2 linked regions of the Homo sapiens genome follow. The protein of the gene in region 2 interacts with the protein of the main gene of each other region in a pairwise test. Each region holds a gene or a part of one and is shown on either strand. Other genes may lie near its edges.

Region 1 (11,478 bases), on a different chromosome or scaffold from region 2:
GCCAACATCTTACTCGGAAGAAAATGCCTTACGTGCTTTCATTATTAAGAGGAGGGAAAGAGAGAGAAAGAAAGAAGATCAAGGGACTAAACATTTATCTCAAAAGTTCTTTTTTGACAAAGTACAGCAATTAAGAAAGTACAGGATGGGTTTGGGCATAGTTTTAGTGGTATATAATATAAAGTCTAGAAGCACATCAAAAGAGCAGAAGGAAGGAAAAAAACATTCGTCAGTTAATGAATTTAAAAAAAAGAGAATTAATGAATATATTCCAGATTTAGTACTTTAAAACAACAAACAATTAAAATTTAGACTAATAACAGAAAAAAGCAAGCATAAGTTGGAATTGATGAGGCTTTGCATTTCCATATGGAGAGTTAAATTATTACATAAATGATGTCGAAACAAACATCAAAAGAGTATGATAGATACTAACATCATACTCTGCTAAAGTAAATTCTAGAGAATAAACATTTAAATATAAAACTGAAGGAACAAAAAGTTCTAGAAAAAAACTTAGGAGAATTCATATTCTTGGAATAGGGAAGGATCAATAGTAAATGAAGAAATAGATTTTACCCTACGCATTTTCACTTCTTTTTTAAATGTCACAAAAATTAGAAGTCGAACTAGAGACAATTAGGGCAACAAATCAAGTAGACAAAGGATTGATACCTACTGTACAGTAATCACTTTTCCCATGCTTTCAAAAATGGACAAAGAACAAAACATATAATTCTCAGAAGAAGAAATATAAATGGCCAATAAATATATAAAATAGTTTTTAAAATACCAAATGAATTAATAATAAAATACTCTTTATTACCTATTAATTGGAAAATATTAAATAATACAGCACTGTAAAACATTGTATGGAATTGGTCCCCCTGGTGGGACTGTGAATTGGTGCAACATTTCTATAGGGCAACATTGCAGTACTACCATGAATTTCAGCGCTCAGACCAATTGACCCAGTAATTCTAACTTCAGTCATTTTTATACGTAAATAATTAAGGAATATGAACAAAGATTTAACCAAAAAGTTGTTCATTGTAGTGTTGTATATACTAGTAAAAAACTAAAAATAAACCTATACTTCCAGGAGTAGGTAAGAATGATTACAGTATGGTGCATTTAAATGCAAAATACCATGCAGCCATTACATGATTATTAAATGGGAAGCGCAATAAAATAAGTGAAAAAAGGCATATGTCCACTTCATGCTTTATTTTTATATGCACACACATAAACATAGGTATGGAAGAGAGATGGGACTAGAAAGAAATGCACCAGCTCTTTTTCCATTTTCTGTAACATTGTAAAGTACAGGCCTAATCTGGATCACCTAATTCAGTACTTTTGATTGAGAAAGAAAGAATATTTTATGTGGTTTTTAAATGTATTTGCAGTAGTCCTGAACTTCAGCACCTCAGACTGATAAGAAGAGCCAAAGGCAAATTACAAATTGGGGAAATATTTACAATTTGTATCACAAAAGGTTAATGTCACAAATATATAAGGTACTCTTGGAAATCTCTTTTTAAAATACCTACAATCAGATAGACAAATGAGCAGAGGATTTGACAGACAGTTCACCAAAAAAGGAAACTAAGTAACTCTTAAAAATAAGAAAATATGCTCAACCTCATTTACAAAAAGAAAAATGTGAATTAAAACCACATAGAGATACCACTTTTCACTTGTCAGATTGGCAGAAATCCAAAAGGTTTTGTCAAAGATATGGGGAAAACAGACATTATCCTACATTCTATAAATTGGTATAGCATTTATGGGGTAGCAATTTGAAAATAGCTATGAAAAATACAAAATGTTTACATAGTTTGACTCAGCTCTTTTCTTTGTAAAGCTCTTCTTTCTAGAGACTTACCCCAGAGATATCCTTACCTACATGCGCAACGCCATTTGTACAGAGTTATTGCTCAAAGCATTGCTTAATAGGAAAAGATTGGAAACAACCTAAATGTTCTTCAGTAGTGGACCAGTTCAGTAAATTTGGGTACAGCTATACAGTGGAGCCCTCCAAGGGTATAAAACAGAACAAAGAAAAGCTGTATATATAGCCACAGAAAGAGCTCCAAACATATTAAATGAGTTAAATATTAATATTATTGAGTATATGGAGTCATATTGGTAATATATATTCCATTAATTTAAAATGCTACTAAATAAAATGTTATTAAATAATATGAAATATTACATTATTAAATGTTAATTTAATATGGTAAAATGGTTTAAATCATGCTTATATGCATTAAAAAATCTCCAAAATGATTAACAAGACATGAATGTAGCAGTTGCCTTTGTGGGGAAAGGGACTGAGCAGGTGGTATACAGGGAGATATTTTACACTTTTCGATTTTTGGAACTATGCGTATGTGTTAGATATTTAAAAACTAAATAATCTTAGATAAAATATATAGTCATATTTATAAAAATAGTTATTAAAGTGCCAGTTTGAACTCAAAAATAAGATTTATCATGTTTGGGCAAAATACTAAATGTGGTTTTACTCTCCATGCCATTCCATTATATAATCTTATAAATGTCTTCTTATTCTGTTAAGGAAAATATCTTCCTACATAAGTATATGTATATTCTCCCCTGTTGATATTTTTATGGAACTTTATTATTATATCTTTTTAATACTCATTAAAATTATTTTCAATTTATAAGTTTTTTTACTACTTACAGTAGCAGTGAAGATTTTAAAGATTTTTTTTACAGAGAGAATTCTTAATACTAAAAAAGTGAATAAAGCCTATTTCACAATTGTCAGTGATACTTTTTTACCACTTAAATTCAAAAACTACTGTGATGGTACCTGTTATAGGTAAGTCAGGTACTCTCAAAGTGTGAGACATTAAATTCCTTTAAGAAGAATCTTGTTTCTTCGGAATTTTTCAGAGTTTCATAGATATTCTTTAGCGACGTACGTGTCACATAGTGTATTCCGCACTGTTGAACAGTCACATTCGACTCACATGCTCACTTTCTTCCCTCTCATCTCTGCAGAATGAATTAAAAGATTTAGTTGGACTTTTTCAGCTTCCCGTTACTAACTTCTGAGTACTTTATGCATACTTCCTATTTTGTCATACAGAATATCGAAAGACTCAAGATTTAATAAAGTTCATAATTTTTAACTGCAAATTCACAGCAATGAAAAATACAATGACTGCTAATACAGTTTGGTGCCACTGCTTTGAATCATGCCAAAGCACCAGCAGCTTTACCCACCATTGTTCTAGCACCATCAGCATAGAGACCAGCACAGTGGAAAAGGCAGTTAACGTCTTTGTATTATTATGAAGGTAATTTTGGCCTCATGTACCTAGACCCCATGGCAGGGTCTCAGGGACCCTCTGGGGTTCATCAACCACATGCTGAGAATACTGATTTGTACCAACCTCTTAATTTCATAGCTGAGAAATATGGGTGTTTGAAAGGAAAAGTAATGTAAACTAAGGCCAGAAGAGAAGAGGCATTAGGGGCAGAGCTAAGATTTAGGTCACTGAGCTCTTCATTCTCTGAATAGTACCAGCTCAGCCTCTTTAAATAAAGTATGGTAAGCCAAGCAAGAATTCACATGTTTCTTAAGGAAATATAACACATTACATTCACAGACTCACTGGACCTGTTAGAAGGATCTGTGGCAGATCATTTTAAGCAGAGAACTAAGCAACTCTCATAAGACCTTGAAAAGACAGGCTTGTTTCCATTTTTTCCTCCTTTTAACAAGTTTATATTTCCAAAGCCTACTACTGACAAAAATCACTGAGCAAAAAGCGCGACAGCACTCATAGTTCTGAAGTATGGACCTCAGTGTGGAGAGTTTGTTCGTTTTAGTCATTCCCATTAAAATGATTTCTAGGGTTAATTGAGTATTTAAAGGCAGAATATCAGAAAGAACCAAGAAAGGGCTTTATGCTGCATTTCCCACTGTTGGAGTCAGTTAGTAGACTCAGAACTCAGAAATATTATTGCCTGAGGAGAAAAATCAAAGCTAGATCTGAATTTAAGGTATAAGAAATTGTTAGTTAATATAATCAGAGTAAGATCTTGGTCATTATTTTCTGGAGTAGGCATAAACAAGGAAAGAAAGAAAAGTCTAACAAGAAAGTGAAACATAAAAGAGAAAATAGTTAATGGAAGGAATTAGAGGGGTGCATTGTCTTTACAGTGTCCCTAGAGTAACGTGTGGTGCCAAGTGCCTTCTGACCTTAGGGGCCAGGAGACTGACTGGGCCCTGCAGCCGGTGTTCAGGGGCCCTTTCTCTCAGATTTCACAGTTTCACAGGCTTCGAACGCGGTGCTACAAGGCCTAACAGTTTTGGGTTTTGGTTTTTTGTTTGGTTTGGTTTGGTTTGGTTTTCAATTTAGTTGATTTACTGTAGTTTTAGATGATAACATTTAATTAGTATCTATTAAGTTAAGAGGAAAATATTAAAGAATATCTACATTTTCTAGTGGGTATTTCTACAACCATTGTACATGAGCATGCATGTGCAGGTATGTTTGTATCTCATAGGATTCAGCCTCCCTGTCATAATCTTCCAATTACTAGTTTCATCTCTTGACCATCTGCTGTGTCAGAAACTCCTTTGATGACTGGGGAGAGATAACTAAGGCTCTCCTCTCAAGGAGGCTACATCTGGAGAAGGCAGACCACAAATAAACAAACCCTCTGGGCAGAGGAAACAGTGAGCGCAAAGGCTCCAAGTCAAGATCACAGTGGAGAAGGACAGCAGTGAACTCAGATGGACTTGGAAGGGCAGGTAGAGGCTGAGACAGGTAGGACCTTCAGGCCAGGTTGAGTCTGAGATTTATTCTAGGAATTTTGGGAAGCTGTTGGAGGATTTTAAGCAGGAGAGAGGTATAATCTGATTTATGTTTTTGTACGATTTCTCAAACTACTGTATGGAAAAGAATCTAGGTGGCAAGTATGAAAACAGGGAGACCAGTTTGGAGGCTAAGGTGATAGAACCCAAGTAAGACATAATGGTAACCAGAACCAAAATGGGAAAAGTAGAAGGATTGAGGATGTGTTTGGAGGTACAGCTGACAGTGTTTACACAGGGCTAATGTGGGCATGGAGGAAACTGAAGAATCAGGTTATTCTTGGGTTTTGACTTTTAGCTTGAGCAAATTGGATGTCAGTCAGTCATTGATATAGGGAAGCCCCAGGGTGAAGGGGGATCCAAGTTCTGTTTGGCATATATTACATTTGAGATATTTATCAAACATACAAGTGGAGATTGGGTGTGCCGGTCTGAAGCTCAGGGGAGAGATGAAGACTTTGAGCTGTTAGGTGGGATTTGGTGATACTATTTAGGGAGAGAACAGAAAGAAAAGGGAAGGGGGGACTATTTACCAACTGGCCTGAAAGTTTCATTATTTTAGTACCAGGTAGAGATGGACCGGCATATGCTGGCTCAGCATAAGCCCTGGATTTAGCAATATATTGATTTTTGGAATCTTAGCATGCGTGGTTTCAGTAGAGTTGTGGGGAAGGAAGCTCAATTGGAGTGGGTTGAGGAAGAAGGAAGCTAAAGATATGGGTGAGGAAGTGGAGGAGATAACAGGTTTTCCAAGAAGTCTTGCTGTTAAGTGAATCAGAGAAACAGGGCTGGAGCCTGGGGCTTGCTTGCAGGTGAAGGAAAGCGTTTTTAAAGGTGGGAGACTACGCCAGAGCAGGGCTACTCAAACTGCACTCCCTCTGCCCAGCAGTGAAATGTTTGTTAAAATACAGAATGAGATAAGCATACAAATTGAGAGGAAACTTTTATGACAGTTTGGCATTGCGGAAACATCCAAGCAGATGATCATTTCTCAAGTACTCATTTTTATTGTATGTTTAAAAGGCATCAGTGATGGGTTAAAATTTAAAACAACAACAGCAACTATACTGGTCCTTTAACCACAGAGTTTGAGAAGCTCCAGAACGTGTGTGAAAGCTGATGGCATGATCCAGTATAAAAGGAGAAATTGGTGACTCAAGAAAGAGAGGAGATAATATTAGGAGCAAAATCCTTGGGAAAGGGAGAACATTGGAATACCAAGTGTCAATGGAAAGATTGCTTTTAGATGGGAGCAACAATATTTCATCCTTATCCCAGGAGGGAAGTCAGAAAATAAAGTGATTGATGCAGGGAGATGGGAGGAATTGGTTGAGGGAGGTGAGAAAAAGGTGAGGCCCTTCTAGATGCTTTGATACCATCTTACCTGTCCTGGCTTCAGCTGACATCCAGGCAAACCCAAACTTTTCTTATATATATAAAATTTAACATGCTGAATGGAGCAAAGTTATCACTGTAGCTAGTTATATGACTACCGGCATTCTGTGACTATCACATGAAATTCAGAAGCACCCTGGCTTGCGTGCTATATGAATATCAGATGAAATTCAAAAGCATCTTGGCTTGTGTGCATGACTGCCTTTAAAATAATGTAGAGTTGATCCAGTAGTCAAAAGAAAGGGCAGGCTGCAAGTTTTCCACATTGAGTGATTTTTCAGCAGGAAAGTGACTTAGTTTTGTTTTTTTGTTGTTTTTTTTGTTGTTGTTGTTGTTTTGTTTTCCTGGAAAAAGCAACATGAGGCTTGTGTCATAAAGTATAAAATTTTACCAGCACTCTAGAGGTTAGATTTAAGTGGAAGCAAACTGATAAGTCATGTGTATGACCGATCAAGATAAGTGTCATGACTTAAAATCATTGATCCTAGCAGGCTGTTCCAGTTAGAATAAAATTTCCTCTTTTTACAGTCAATTTCAATTACTTCATCAAGACATTAATTTAATACATTTGGATGAACTCAGAATGTGGCCCTTCTAGAAAAGAGTAATTTCTGTACACAAGAAGGAACAGTTATGAAACATTCAAACCAGCAGAGTGGTTTTGGCTTTGAACTTAGAGCTTGAAAAGTCATTGCCCTCTTCCATGGAGATGGACAAATCTTGTGACAGTGACTGTCGCTATGAGGCTCCAGGTTTGGTGAGATGACTGGGAAATTCTAGAATTTATCACATTTTACTCCTAAACTTCACTGGAATAGAGGCTCAGGACAGGTTTACGCCTAAGTTTGAAGTTGGCTTTGTTTTCGCCTTTATACTTTTCTCCATTTGTTAAATATTTTGCAATAAGTCTTCATTACTTTTCTAATTTTCTTGTTAAAAAATGTTTAACAAAATTAAAGCAGTCTGAATCAGTAGAGTTTCCAAGTTACCCAGTTTTTAAATGAATCTAGCAGAGAGGAGATTTTGCAGCTTTAGAAGGATGAATTATATGATTTTATAATACATCTAATTTAGATTTTACATTGCATTTTTTAACAAGTTATGTGTTTTCAAAACCTGAAATGCATATATCTAGGCAATATGCATCTGTTCAAATTGTTAAGTTTCAATGAAACCAGCAGTTTAGTTCATTCCAGGCACATTTCATTAGGGCAAGAAATTAAGGGTGATAAAAAAACAAAAGAAAATAGATGTCTGTGGTCTGCTGGTTTTAGAGAGATAGTCTGTGCATGAGAACGTATATATGAGATTTACAAAAGAAATGTAATATTGTTCCAGGAAGCAAGCTGAGCTAAGTGATACAAGATTTTTTTTCTACTTTCTTCATTTGGATGAAAAATGTATTACATTGCCTAGTTTGTAGATAGAACTTTGAGACCAGAATAAAAATGCCTTGGAAATTGACTTTTGGGAACTTTATGTGCATACATCACAGGCCTCTGCATTCCTCCCATTGGCAACTTCAGAATCAGAGTTACAGTTGTTGGGATAGAACATTAATCCAAGAGATAAAATCTGATGAGTGGCCAAAGATCTACTCCTGTCCTCTTAATTGAGCTTTTTCTCAATACTTAAAATCTAATGAACTAGTGAGTGGCATAAAGTGAGTTAAGCAAGATGAGTAAGTTCTAGAGAGTTGCTGTGCACCGTTCTGCCTGTAGTCAACAATGACTGCATTATGTGCTCAAATATTTCAGAGGATACATCTCATATTATATTCTTAGCACAATACAATAAAATTAAAAATAGGTATCTCTAATATTTGGTTACCCTAATATCTTCCCTAGTTAAATAGGAAAAGGAGCACGAATGAAAATCTTGCATTAAATTCTAACCCTCAGAACAAGGATAGTGAATGTTAAAGGAATCCTGAATGCTTTTTCCTTGTGAATAAAATACGGCACCCTGCTATTTTCCAAGTGAATCACGAGTACATTTGATTTACTTAGGTGGGCAGATCAACAGAAAGCCCTATCGACTTCGTTGTCACAGACACGATTTCTGGCAGCCAGAACACGGACGAAGCCCAGATCACACAGAGCACCATATCCAGGTTCGCCTGCAGGATCGTGTGCGACAGGAATGAACCTTACACAGCACGGATATTCGCCGCCGGATTTGACTCTTCCAAAAACATATTTCTTGGAGTAAGTACTGTCAAGAAGTACACGATTTCTAGAAAAATGCTTGTGATTATGATATGGAACATTTAATTGGAGCAAAAAAAAATTGGCTTTGTATGTTGCCTCTAGTGAGATTTTGAGATTTTAGTTTTCAGGTGGCCAGTTTGAGAAACTTGTTATTAAAAATCTGAACATTAATAAGCATTGCTTGTTATTCATTATATTTTTTATATTGTAATATTTACAGTAAGTACTTTTTTTAAAGTATGCCTATAACATTGTCCATAATGTATTTACGGCAACGAAGAGGTTTATTTCAGAGAGAAAAATAAATGGGCCAAATTTAGATCATTAGGGCTTAGAGGAAAATGTTAGTGATTCACTCATTCAAAAATGTTTTATGAGTGTTTGCTATGTTCCATACTGGGTGTTTTAGTTATGGGATTACAGAGAACAACACAGACTTGAATCCCTGCCCTTATAGGGTTTCCTTGTAAACCCCAGAAGTTTTAGTGAATATCCAGGTTTAACATAGTTTCCTTTTGAATTAGGATATTTTTGCAGGAAAAAACCCACTCAAAATGATCTAAAATCAGTGAAAATGTACTATTCCCACATAAGAAGTGCCGATGAAGGCCAGCTCCAGGGTTGGTGGTTCAGTGGTTCTGTGACATCCAGTGCACTGGGTTCTCTCTGTCTTGCCTTCTGCCTCCCGTGGTGCACCAGCCTCTTCCTGGGAGGTCTTCTTGTGGGTGAGAGCTGGCTCCTGCACTTCCAGATGTCCCCTGCCACATGACAACTTCCAGCCAGAGAAGAGGGTGGCAGAAGCACTGTTTCTTCCTTGTCTCTTCTTAGAGCACAGACACCTTTCTTGGAAGCCTCCAAGAAGATATCATGTGTCATCAGTCAGAGCCCAGTCATGTGCTGTGCCCACCTGTAAACCAGCTATTGGGAAGAGGGCTGGGAGTGTCATGTTGGGTTAATCAGGATTCCCCACCACCCCCCAACCCCCGCCCCAGCCACATGAACAGTAGCTGAGCTCTGTCACCAAGAAAGCTGAAGGGAAGAGCTGTGGCACAAGCACCCAAGAGTGTCTGTCCTGTCGTCATGTCAAGCTACATGCGCCATCTACCTTTGAGAATTTAAACGGTGATTATTATGAAAACATAATGACCCCGACTTGTTGGCTTAACATTTTTGGAATTTTCTAGCTTTAATAAAAGGTCTTTCTTTATGACTGTCCTTTCTCTTCTCTATCCTGACAGTGAGAACATAGAAAGTACTTTTAGATAACAGGATAGGAGCATGGCATAAGTATAACTGAAAAGAGAAAACACACCAGATTCCTGGAATCTCATGGGGTTGTGGGGAAGGTAAAAAGAATCTTAGAGGGAGAAGCCCAGGCCTCGATTTTTTGCAAGTTCTTGAGAACTATGATGTGTGTCCAGTGATAAGTCATTCATCCATTCAGCACTTCTTTTATATTGTCGAAAGGATGGCATATGTTATCCTTGTGATTATTAGCTTTAAATAGAAAATGAAAATTCATCACCTTCCTCCCCTCTGCCTCTATGCAATGTATTAAAGAAATTCCAGAATCCTTTCCATTTCAACATCATCTTAACCTACTTTTTCTGTTCTGCTGTGTTCTCTCCAGGAAAAGGCAGCAAAGTGGAAAAACCCCGACGGCCACATGGATGGGCTCACTACTAATGGCGTCCTGGTGATGCATCCACGAGGGGGCTTCACCGAGGAGTCCCAGCCCGGGGTCTGGCGCGAGATCTCTGTCTGTGGAGATGTGTACACCTTGCGAGAAACCAGGTCGGCCCAGCAACGAGGAAAGCTGGTGAGTGTGCTTCACTCTGCAAGTGTGAAGTACGAAACTACTCAAGCCTAACTCGAAGGCTATCATTTTCCTCCCCTGATGTTCAGAACCTTTGTGCAGGTCCAAGCGCCATGTACTGTAACTCAGGAGAAGCAGAATTCCACAAGCCCCTGAAATCAAGAGGGAAATGGCCTTATCTCCTTCAGGGGTTCAACTTTTCCCATAGTGGGAGTAAATTGTGTTTTGCTCCTTACCACCTGAAGAGCATTATCTTTTATTATATACCTCACCACAAAAATCTACTTAAATTCACTTTAAGGAGAAGAAACTTATTTTTAGTGTAAAACTTTATTGATTTGGAAAACGTTTGAGCAGTCCAAAAACAATTAGTAAAAATTATGCATTAAGGAATTATTTACTAGACTTTCTGGAAGTAAAAAATAAGTCAGCTGGTTTTCCCTTTGAATTCCTATATATTAAGGCAGAATTCTCTATACTGTCCACCAAAATCATAGTTACAACTGTTTACTTGAAATGATTTATATACTGCATTGACCTGGCATGTTAATATTTTCCTATAAATATCACCACTTATCCCCATGCCCTAAAGCAGTTTTTTTAAACCCATTCTTTCTTGGAGAATAATTATAATACCTTAAATATAGAACTTTGGGTTTCTGATCTTGCCATAGCCATGTAGCACAGCCACTGATTTTTAGTAAGCTGTCCATTCCTGTACTTTTCTTAATTTGCTAGGTAGAAGCTAGAACGAGAGAGAACAAATGTCTTTTTCTAGAAGCTAGAAAAGAAGGAGTTCTTCAAAACTCCCACAGAATAAAATGTATACAGAATAGAGGATTTGACCTAGCACTTGTCAGAGAGAAAGATCATCACCAAAAATGTCTAAGATGGAAAAAGAAGTTGGGGGCTGTTTCACTGACCTCATTTGCTGTTCTCTACTGGATGTTTGTGTTTAGGGAATGGTTATTTTTATTTCTATTTTACACCATTTTTCAGCTTCAGGCACAGCGTATGCGTCTTACAGTGCACCATGGCTGAATAAATATGAGAAGCATTTTCTAAAAAAAAAGCAAATTCAATAAATTTTGTATGAATGTTTTCAAGAAATTGTAAACAAAGGAGGAAATGTGAAAGCAGTTTTTCTAAATAATCTTTTGTTTCTGATCACTGGATAGTTTTATACAAAACTGACCTAG
Region 2 (11,478 bases):
GTCTGTCTCAAAAACAAAAAACAAACAACAACAACCAAAAAAAAACAACACTGTGTGTGTCTTTTTTTTTTTTTTTTTTTTTGAGACAGGGTCTCACTTTGTCACCCAGGCTGGAGTGCAGTGATATGGTCATTGGCTCACTGCAGCCTTGACCTCCAGGGCTCAAGCAATCCTCCCACCTCAGCCTCCAGAGGAGCTGGGACCACAGTTGCGCACTACCATGTCTGGCTAATTTTTAAATTTTGTGTAGAGACAATGTCTTGCCATGTTGCCCACGCTGGTCTTGAACTCCTGGACTCAAGCAATCTTCCTGCCTCGGCTTCCCAAAGTGCTGGGATTATAGGCGAGAGCCACCGTGCCTAGTGTGTACATCTTGTTCTGCCTATCAGACTACTTCTTGACAGGTCTCCTCCTAGCCCCCAGAGTTAGTCCTGCAGGGCCAAACTGGAGGCCTTGCCCTTCCCACAATCTGACAGTCTATGCCCCCATCCTACCTCAGGCTCTGAGACCCCAACTTGGCTCTATTTTGCAATCTCAGGGACTCACTAAGTCAGTCTGTCTGATGGTTCATTCTGACCAGGGGGTCGAAGCCTAGGGAGGGATAAAACCAGCCTTCTGTTGAGTTCCTGGGTCTAGCCCAGGGGTCTTGTTTCATCTCTCTTCTCCCCCTACCATCACTGCCTGGTTCCTAGAAAATTTGGGGCTTACCTTGCTTGTGCCATCCTCTGAAGAGCTTAACTCTGGCCCAGCAGCTGGGCTTAGTAATGTTATGGGACCCCCCTCCCCCGGTCTCTGCAGGAAGGTTTCTGGCCTGCCCCCTAGGATCTCCATCCTCTGCCTGTTCCCAGCACTTCCTTCATGGGGCCCACCTGTCACTCACAATCAGAGTTCCCAACATGCTTGTGTGTGTCTTATTCTGCCTATCAGATAGTACTTCATGACAATGGTTGGCCTTCATCTCTGAACACACAATGCCTCACTCCAGGCTGGTACCTTCTAAATGCCTACAACTGGGTCCCTACCCTCCAAACACCAGCCCCAATCCAGGAGCCCTGCACTGCCCTATTTCACCCTTCTTGCTGCTCCCTCCGACTCCAATTATTTTCCAAAGCAGGTATTTGGTGAATAAATGAAGTGCCCTCTGCTCACATTCACCAAGTCCTCTTTGCTGATACAGTTGTGCCATGCTGCTGGGACACCAGTGGGCAGATATTGGTGGCTGATGTTGGACAGCTTTAACCTCCTAGCAAGAAAGTCAAACTTCCTCGTGGAAAGTCTAGGGAATCCCAAGGTCATGGGCCATGACTATGTACCAACCCATCTGGCTGGAAGGGCTAGGACTCAGCTAGGGAGGCCTAGCTGAGTCAACGTATGGATCATCCAATCCAGATGGGCACAGATGATACAAACCAGACCAGGCCTGACAATAGGGGTAGGGTTGGTACATACGAGTGTCCTGTGGGAGAGATGAAGTAAAGGCAGCAGTGGACACGAGTGTCAGGGATGCGTTTCTTCCTGGCGATGTTGACCTCCTCCTTCAGGAACTTCTCGTACTGCTCATTGATGTACTTCTCAATGGGCTCCCAGCTGATGGGGAGGGAAAGTAGATAGATGCATCAGAAGAACAAGACCTAGGGCTCAGCTTAGGCATGATCTGGTAGCAATCTCCTTACATTCATGTCATTCCCTGGTTGGTGGGCCTAGGATACCTGCTGCCAGATTCCCCCTCAGCCCCCGCACCGATGGCTTTCCTGGATGGTTAGTTAGCAGGGGTGGAGCTCCCCAGGGGCCCTGGCCTGGGCTGTCGGGAACTACAGAGCATGGAGGGTGCAGATGGTTCTCAACGTGAATGAATCTGCACCATAGTAAGTATCTTCCCAGCAGAGTCTTTAGGGCAAAGATCTCAGAGGCAGACAGATACCAGTTTTCATTGTTGATTTGGTCTCCAAAGCCTGGGGTGTCGATGACGGTCAGCTTCATTTTGACACCGCCTTCCTCTATCACTGGGGGTGAAAAGAAAATGTACCAGAGAGGTCAGTCCTACAGCTGACCCCAGGTACCTGGCAGCCTACTAGCCAGGGAGACCCAGGCCTTGTCTTCAGGATCAGTTATTGGAAAAGTCAAATTTAGGGTCTTTTCCATCTCGATATCATGGCTTATGCTGTTCCCTGTACCTGGAATCTGGAATACCCTCTCTACTCATTTCTTTTTCTTCTTCTTTTATTTTTTTTAAGAGACAGGGTCTCACTCTGTCACCCAGGCTAGAGTGCAGTGGTGCAATCACAGCTCACTGTAGCCTCGAACTCCCCAGCTCAAGTGATGCTGTCGCCTCAGCCTCCCCAATAGCTAGGACTACAGATATGCACCATCATACCCAGCTAATTTTTTTTTTAAGAGACAGGGTTTCGGGCCGGGCGTGGTTGCTCACGCCTGTTATCCCAGCAGTTTGGGAGGCCAAGGCAGGCGGATCACGAGCTCAGGAGATCAAGACCATCCTGGCTAACACAGTGAAACCCCATCTCTACTAAAAATACAAAAAAAATTAGCCGGGCGTGGTGGCGGGTGCCTGTAGTCCCAGCTACTCAGGAGGCTGAGGCAGGAGAATGGCGTGAACCCGGGAGGTGGAGCTTGCAGTGAGCCGAGATCGCACCACTGCACTCCAGCCTGGGCGACAAAGCAAGACTCCGTCTCAAAAAAACAAACAACAAACAAACAAAAAAAGAGACAGGGTTTCACTGTGTTGACCAAGATGGTCTCGAACTCCATGACTCAAGCGATCCTCCCACTTTGGCCTCCCGAAGTGCTGGGATTACAGGCATGAGCCACCGTACCTGCCCACTCCTTACCTCTTTCTACCTGTCTAAATCCTGTACTTTATCATCCACCTCAAATCTCACCTCCTTCCATTCGAGCTCCCTGCTCTCTCTTCCCTGAACCTGCAGTCTAAGGAGTTTGCTTCAGAGTGAAGTGCTCACGTCTGTTTTGTCTTAAGGTTGCCTTTTATTGATCTTATTCTTCAATAAGCCCCATTCTTTCCCCTTTCCAGCAGAGGCACTCACTGAACAAAGCCCATAGGGGTCCCTGCCTGGTCCTCACCATGCCCGATAGCTTTGATCTCCACTGTCTTGGGGATCTTCTCCTCCCGGTTCCAGCTGGAGGCCTTGCGGCTCACTTGGGATTTGAAGAGCGTGTTGACCAGCGTTGATTTGCCCAGTCCACTCTGGCCTACAGCAAAGCAGGAGGAGGAGGTAGGGAGACTCTGCATCCACCTCCTGAGCCTAATATTTCTCCATAAGCTTACAGAATTCTAGAGCCATGATCCAGGCCACACCTTGTCTGACCACTCACTGGGGGATGGCCAGGCTGAGTGGGGATTGCAGGCAGGTGGGAATGGCTTCCTGCTTACTGCAGAGGGCCTTGGGGAAACATCACTTGGATTCCATATTCTCTCCTTCCCAGAGCCACAGGACCACTGGGAAAAGGGACAACCTCTGCATATGTCTAGTGTCGTGGTTTTCTGTTTTCTCGTGATTCCATTTTTTGCTTAGGTTTTCACTTTTTAATGATACTAAAAGGAAAAATAGAATGACTTTGCATCCTGATACTGCCTCACAGTGCATATTGTACATTCACATTTGTTAGCCAAATTCATTTTTATATCAGCCCTGTGGATCCTGAAGCAGAACTATCTTTATCCTCAGTTGAGATGGTCCTAGAGAGATGAATCCTCTTCTAACAAAATATGTGCAGAGCAACATAACTAATACATGCAAGACCAGGAACTCAAACCCTAATAACATCTTGGCTCTATATCCACTCTTTCTTCTAGTGTAGTGGTTTTTAGATTGTGCTCCCAGAAGCCTTAGTGTCCTGTGAAGATACATGCCAGAGAGGGCACTGTGAGAGGAGGAGGAGGCTGGGCAGGCAGGGCCCCTGCATCCACTTCCTTCGCTATGGCTCCCTTTCACCTGTTTTCCAGATGCATATCTGCAGAAGATTTCATTTCAAGGAAAAGTTTCACAGCTAAAGAACATTTGAAAACCACTGGTCAGGCCGTTTGCCGTGGCTCACACCTGTAATCCCAGCACTTTGGGAGGCCGAGACAGGCGGATCATGAGGTCAGGAGGAGATCGAGTCCATCCTGGCTAACACGGTGAAACACCGTCTCTTCTAAAAAAAATACAAAAAATTAGCCCGGCGTGGTGGCAGGCGCCTGTAGTCCCAGCTACTCAGGAGGCTGAGGCAGGAGAATGGCATGAACCTGGGAGGCAGAGCTTGCAGTGAGCTGAGATCGCGCCACTGCGCTCCAGCCTGGGCGACAGAGCGAGACTCCGTCTCAAAAAAAAAAAAAAAAAAAAAAAAAGGGAAAACCACTGGTCAGGCCAGGTGCAGTGGCTCATGCCTGTAATCCCAGCACTTTGGAAGGCCAAGGCGGGCAGATCACTTGAGGCCAGGAGTTCGAGACCAGCCTGGCCAACATGGTGAAACCCTGTCTCCACTAAAAATACAAAAATTAGCCGGGCATGGTGGCACATGCCTGTAGTCCTAGCTACTCAGGAGGCTGCGGATCGTTTGAACCCAGGAGGCAGAGGCTGTAGTGAGCCGGGATCACGCAACTGTACTCCAGCCTGGGCAACACAGCGAGACTCTGTCTCAAAAGAAACAAACCCACTGGTCTGAGCAGAGCTTCTCAAACTTCAACACGTACAAGAATCCCACAAGAAAGACTTGCAATTGACAAGCAGCCTCGGCATTGCCCGGACACTAGTAGGAAATGCAGAATCTCAGGCCCCACCCCAGACCTATGATTCTGAATCTGCATTTTAACTGGGCTTCCAGAAGAGTCCTATGGACAATAAGATCTAAGAAATACTGGGCTGGTGAATTCTTGTGATTATATTAGAAAAAGAACCATGCTGGGGGACAAGGGCCTAGAGTTCCAGACCCACCTGCATTGTTTTCCCTGAATGCCTTTGGATTAGTCATGCCTTGGTTTCTTTACTGATAGGATGGTGAGGAGAGAGGAAATTGGACAAGACCAGGGATGGTAAATAAGGTGCATTTCTCATTCCTGCTGATTATCTGGTAGTAGTCACCTAGACCATTATGTTAAAAAGGCTACATCTGGGCTCAGCACTGAACACGTGCCATGACTGACTAGCAGTCTGCCATGCACACCACTGGGGAGAGAAGTGGCTCACGGGTGTTGGATTTGCCATGCTTGCTCTGAGATGTTTTCTAAGAGCATTCATTCATTAATTATTCTTAGGTGCCAAGTGTTGTCCTAAAATTTGGAGGTACTATCGTGAACAAAACATGATCCTTACCCTCAAGGAGCTGCTTAGTGTGAGAGTGACCAAAACATAAGCAGACAATTATAGTATGTTGCAATAACCACTGTGAAAGAGAATAGCCACAGGGTATTGAAACAGCATTGCCAAGGGAATCCAACCCAGTCTCTCTGGGACTAAGGAAGACTTCTGGAGAAATGCAACTAAGCTGAAACCGGAAGGTTGATTTCAAAAGAGTCATGAGTTCTAGCCAGAGGGAACAGCAGATGCAAAAGCTCTAGGGTAGGAGAGAGCATGGCATGTGGACGAGCACTGCCTCTTCTGAGTGAGGAGTACAATGCTAGATGGGAAGTGGTCAGAGATGAGCTGAAGAGGTACAATCAGGACAGTCTACGAGTTTAAACTTACCCTGAGGTTAAAGGAGAGTTTGTTACAGAGTTTTAAGTAAGTTGGGTGACTCGATAAGTTTTGCAAGGTGGGAAGATTATTTGGTCACTGGTGGACAAGGGATTGGAGAGGAAAGGAGACAGAGAGCTAGGAGGGTTGGTGCCACTCCGAGTGTGGCCCATAGGGGCCCAGCTACCAGGGTCCCTGACCCATTTGCTACTGGTTCTTGAGATAAGAAGTCTGCCTCAGGAGAGAAATCTACCTTGTCACTGAGCACACTGTTTAGCTCAGTGGAGGTTTTTTATAGCAAGATTTTCCAGATGATTTATACTCTGGCCCAAGCCCCAGCTGAGCTTATCTTGCTGCAGGTCAGCACTTTGACAGCACAGAGTCAGGTGGCCACGGCAAGCCAGGTGAGAGAAAGTCAGTATAGGGTGGCAGCAAGAGAGAGGAGAGAAGTGGGCAGACGTAAGAGATACGTATGAGGTAAAATGGACAGGACTGGATGACTGATTGGGGGATGAAGGAGGAAGAGGACAGAAGGATGACGCCAGATTCCTTTTTCAGCACTGACTGGACATCTCACTGAGACGGGGCAAAGGTCCCTTCCTACTCTTTTTTTTTTCTTCTTTTTTTTTTGAGATGGAGTTTCACTCTTGTTGCCCAGGCTGGGGTCCAATGGTGCAGTCTCAGCTCACTGCAACCTCCACCTCCCAGGTTCAAGTGATTCTCCTGCCTCAGCCTCCAGAGTAGCTGGGATTACAAGCATGTGCCATCATGCCCAGCTAATTTTTTTGTATTTTTAATAGAGACAGGGTTTCACCATGTTGGTCAGGCTAGTCTCAAACTCCTGTCCTCAGGTGATCCACCCACCTCGGCCTCCCAAAGTGCTGGGATTACAGGCGTGAGCCACCATGCCCAGCCCCTTCCTACTCTTACATTCTGTGACGCAGTGATGCTACTCAGTGACCAAATCCCTGGAAATTCTCTCAAAATCTTTTTTGTTTTTTGTTTTTTGTTTTGAGGCGGAGTTTCACTCTTGTTGCCCAGGCTGGAGTGCAATGGCGTGATCTCAGCTCACTGCAACCTCCACCTCCCGGGTTCGAGCGATTCTCCTGCTTCAGCCTCCCGAGTAGCTGCGATTACAGGCATGCGCCATCACACCTGGCTGATTTTGTATTTTTAGCAGAGATGGGGTTTCTCCATGTTGGTCAGGCTGGTCTCAAACTCCCGACCTCAGGTGATCTGCCCACCTCAGCCTCCCAAAGTGCTGGGATTACAGGTGTGAGCCACCACACCCGGCCTTCTCTCAAAGTTTTAAAGCACTACAAAAGAGTAGAAATAAGACCACCCTTCATCCAATCCTTCCACCAGCTCTCAGAGGTAAGGAAGAACATTGCTGATTCTCTCATGTCACAAACCCAAAAGCAGGATCAGAGTGGTGAAGGGGCTGCCTGTGTACACCGAGCTGGTGATGGGGGGCTGGGCTGGCATCCACCTGAAGCTCCTACCCCTGGGTCAGCTAGTCTTAAGGGGAGACAGGGGTCAGGCCTTTGTGATCAGCATGGTGAAATTCTCCCTTCTACAAACAGCTCATCTTAGAAGAGCCAGGGTCACAGCCATTTGGGGGAAAGAAATGGGATCCTTGGTGCTGCCCGCCACCAGGCCTGCAGCAGCCCCACAGCCTTCCGTACCAACGACCATGATGTTGAAGTCGAAACCGGTCTTCATGGTCTTCTTGCGCATCTGCTCGATGATGGTGTCGATGCCGATGTAGCCCAGCAGGTTGGAGTTGATGCTCATGGGCTTCATGGGCACCGCTGGCTTAGGCCTGGGCTCAGGCACCAGCTCTGACATGGCTGCGTCCGTCCTGGTCTCTGGGAGCCCTGCAGAGCCAAGGTGGGAGGGGTCGGAGGGGTGATCAGGAGGACGGCAGAGGTCACATGGAAACCATGGTATTTTTCTCTTGCTACAGAATCATACAAAGTTGGGCCTGGAAGGGATCTTAGTATCATCCAGTCCAGGTCCCTCATTTCATAGACAAAGAGACTGAGGCCTGGAGGAGAAAGAACTCAACTAAGAACACAGAGCAGGTCAGAGGTAAAATCTGGGCCAGTGCCAGGTTCTCTGGTTGCTGGGCACTTTCAAATGCACCTCACTGCTCTGAAGCCCACATCTGTGCATCTAACCCAGGGGCTGCTCCATCTTGGCACTAATGACATTTGAGTAATTATTGTGGGAGGCTGTCACATGCATTACAGGATGATTAGTGGCACCCCTGATCTTAGTAGCCCCCCAGGCTGTGACAACCCAAAATGTCTCTAGATGGTACCAAATGTCCCCTGGGAAGCACCATTGCCCTGGCTGAGAACCACTGGTCTAAGAAATGTCTGGGGTTGTTCAGACCTGAGTCATGCCTCCCTCCCCGAATAAAGGGCAAAGACTTTTTAGGATCCTGCACTAACATCTATTAACTGTCACTGACCTCGGCTGCTTCATCTTTTAGAAGCAAACAGGGCTACCCTTCTCTGGAGAGTGGCTATCACTCTCGTCTCCCAGCCTCGATGTCCCCTCTGTACCATGAGCACCACTGCAGAGTAGGGGTGTCTGTACCTGAAGGAGCCCAGACACCCTCCCAGCCATTGTTCTGAATCTGTGGAACCAGTGGGGAGGGGATGAGAACCAGATGAGGGCAGTCACTTGCCTAAGACGACACAGTGTGCTCTTGGAGTGGTGGATAGCAGATGAAAGAGAAGGCTGAGGAACCAGCCCCTCCCTAGTGAGGAAGGGCAAACGTCCCCCTGGGTTTAGTGGATCATGGGTGTGTTCATACACAGGAGAAATCTGTGGGTTTCCTTATCAGGCCACTGTCCACCAGGGCAGGTTCCAGAATAGAGCACCTCCATTTCCCCATCCATACAATTGGGGTATGGGGTGAAGTGGAAAGAGCCTGGCTCTGCTACTTCTCAGCTTTGTGGACTTGGGAAGACCACCTCCCCACTATGAGCCTGCATCCCTCTCTATAAAATGGAAAGATCATCACTAAGACTGTGGTGAGCTTTCATGAGACATGATGCTTAGAAGCACTGAGCAATGGCCGGGCGCGGTGGCTCACGCCTGTAATCCCAGCACTTTGGGAGGCCAAGGCAGGCGGATCATGAGGTCAGGAGTTCGAGACCAGCCTGATCAACATAGTGAAACCCTGTCTCTATTAAAAATACAAAAATTAGCCAGGCATGGTGGCAGGCGCCTGTAATCCTAGCTACTCAGGAGGCTGAGGCAGGAGAATTGCTTGAAATCGGAAGGCGGAGTTGCAGTGAGCCGAGATCGTGCCACTGCACTCTAGCCTGAGCAAAAGAGTCAAACTCTGTCTCCAAAAAAAAAAAAAAAAAAAAAAAAAAGGCACTGAGCAATATCTTACAGTCCCAGACCCTTTTGCCCCAGCCCCTTTCAGGTCTGTAGGGGAAATGAAACAGTACATGTGAAAGCATTGGTTAAAGGAAGGTGTCCCCAGATGCCAGTTACACAAGCATGGTTGTTGGACTCCATGTGCTCTTGAGGACACCTTCCAGCTCTGCCGTTCTAGAATCCTATGTTTCATGACTAACACCCTGCAGAGTCTCAACCTTACAGGGAGGCCTGATGGAGCAGCAGATGGGCGGGAGGGAGAGGGGACAGAAGTATTCCCTTCCCACCCCTAAACCCAGCCAGGAGCCTACTCTCATCTCCCTCCACCTGGTCCTTCCACCGGTACTGGTAAGACCCTCTCTCCCAATGGGAAACTGTTCTTTCTTCTGTCACTCCCAGGCACAGCCAAATCTGCCAAAGCCTCAGGACCTCCCCAGGGCCTGGCATGGCTCTCTCTTGCTTCCCAGGAAGCTGTTCCCAGCCAGGCAGCTCCGCATGGCAGCAAGATTGGCCCAGCCCTGCAGCAGCTGACTCTCAGCAGCCTGGCCCTGCTCCTCCACTCTTGCACGTGGCTCACAGGCCCCACTCAGCACACCTGCACTGGGACCAATGCCCCATTTTTCCTGCCCAGCTGCTCACACAAGCTGGGCCTTTCCATTGCCCCTTATGCCTCTGCAGCTGAGCCCATTTGGTCTCAACCTGTGTTATAAGATAGAGCCACATGGTTTGGGGGGGTGGTCTTATCCCCATTTTACAGACTTGGAAAGTATGCCTTGTATTTACTTATGAGAGGTTGTGTAAAGATTCCTATAAAGTGTGTGCTCTCACCATGGCCTGCTCCGCCCTGGCCTGTCAACTGCAGCATCCTAAAAGAGCACGCCCAAAAGATAGACCCTGATGGAGAGAGGGTCCTACCAGATCCCCAAGCAGCATCTAGGGGCTACCACAGGCCCACTACAGGACCAGGACCTGGTAGATCTCACTTTCATTCCTCCAACAAGCACATATGAGCACCCACTGTGTGCACTGTACACAGCGCCTGCTGGCAAGTCAGCCTCCCCACCACATGCCAGTGACATGCCAGTCACATGCTAACAAGCCACCCACCAGCCCCAAGTACAGTAAATGTGTGCAGGTCACTGTGCCACAAGCTTTGCTGGAAGATCCTGTTCCCCCTCCAACCCCTGGCTCCCTCCTCCTCCTCCTCCTCCTCCTCCTCCTCCTCCTCCAGCATTCAGCCCCACTGCTACTCCCAGGAAAGCCTCTGCTTTGCCTTCTGATGTGGATGGCCCTCTTCTGTGCCCACTGCACATTTTCTGGTACTCATCACATTCACTCATTCATTCATTCCATCCCATCTAGGCCATTTCATATGCTGTCAAATGGGGGTCTACACCAGCCAAGCCCTAGGCGAAATTCCAAGGACACTTATGTACCCCAGACAAGGTTGTTGCCCTTGAGGGCCCCCTGTCTGGTAAGGGTGCCTGACAAATAAACAAAGACCTCTGGGGCACAGAACCAATGCTGCTCTGGAGCTGGATTCTGTAGTTCCATCCTCTGTCCCTACAACTCCCCTGGTCCCACCATGTCAACGTCAGATGGGCAGGTGACCCAGGCTTGAATCCTGGCTGGGTGACCCTTATGAGCCTCATTTTCTGCTCAGACAACTGGGGATAGAACCTACCTTGCTGGGTTTCTATGAAGGTTATACAGAATGAAGAATGTAAATTATCTGGCACAAATACGTACTAGTTCTCACCCTTCTTTAGGGCGGGGCCGTGTCTTATTGATCTCTGTGCCCCAGTCTACCCAGCATACCACAGGCACTCCTCAATAAGTGAATGAATGAATGATGAGTGAATGAGAACTTCAGAGTGAGGCAGGTATCAGACACATCACCTTTCTCTTCCCTCAGATGCTTCTCCCCATGCAGAGCAGCTGACCCCCCAGTGAGCAATGGCTGTTGTCTCCGCCACAGTCAAGGGAGTAGAATTGTTGAGACCTCCTCCTTCCTCTGCAACAAGGATTGGAGGGGGGCTCCCCAAGGGTGGGGAAGAGCTCGGGTCACAGCAGGGTGCAGCTCAAGTCTGCCATCCTGGCTAGATGGTCCTTGGGGCCCCCCTCAGCTCCTGGCTCTCCTAGGGCCCCTGGAGAAGGGGGATCTGCCTGCAGCACCCTCTGCCAGAAGCTACCTGCCCCATCAGTGCTCCAGGGAGAGGCACCATCCACCTGACTCGGTTGCAGCCAAGAAACAGCCCCTCCATTCCCATGCTAAGCAAAGACCCTGGCACTTCCTTTTACAGGCAAATGAATGGCTTTGGCTTTGTCTGGCCCAGGGACCCCACCCCTGTGTTAGGAAGGTAGCAGCTGGGGGAGGGTACTTTTCCAAAAT

The links.
Region 1: the proteins of SEPTIN3 (region 2) and PELI2 interact in binary tests that used the Homo sapiens proteins (3 or more experiments, as listed by UniProt).

The regions. Positions count from the first base shown.
Region 1 is NC_000014.9:56,280,175-56,291,652, forward strand, and holds part of PELI2 (E3 ubiquitin-protein ligase pellino homolog 2), read left to right. Parts: intron 1-8,262; coding exon 8,263-8,460; intron 8,461-10,093; coding exon 10,094-10,282; intron 10,283-11,478. UniProt on the Homo sapiens protein: E3 ubiquitin ligase catalyzing the covalent attachment of ubiquitin moieties onto substrate proteins. Involved in the TLR and IL-1 signaling pathways via interaction with the complex containing IRAK kinases and TRAF6.
Region 2 is NC_000022.11:41,977,731-41,989,208, reverse strand, and holds part of SEPTIN3 (neuronal-specific septin-3), read right to left. Parts: intron 7,565-11,478; coding exon 7,373-7,564; intron 3,226-7,372; coding exon 3,097-3,225; intron 2,004-3,096; coding exon 1,922-2,003; intron 1,588-1,921; coding exon 1,450-1,587; intron 1-1,449. UniProt on the Homo sapiens protein: Filament-forming cytoskeletal GTPase. May play a role in cytokinesis.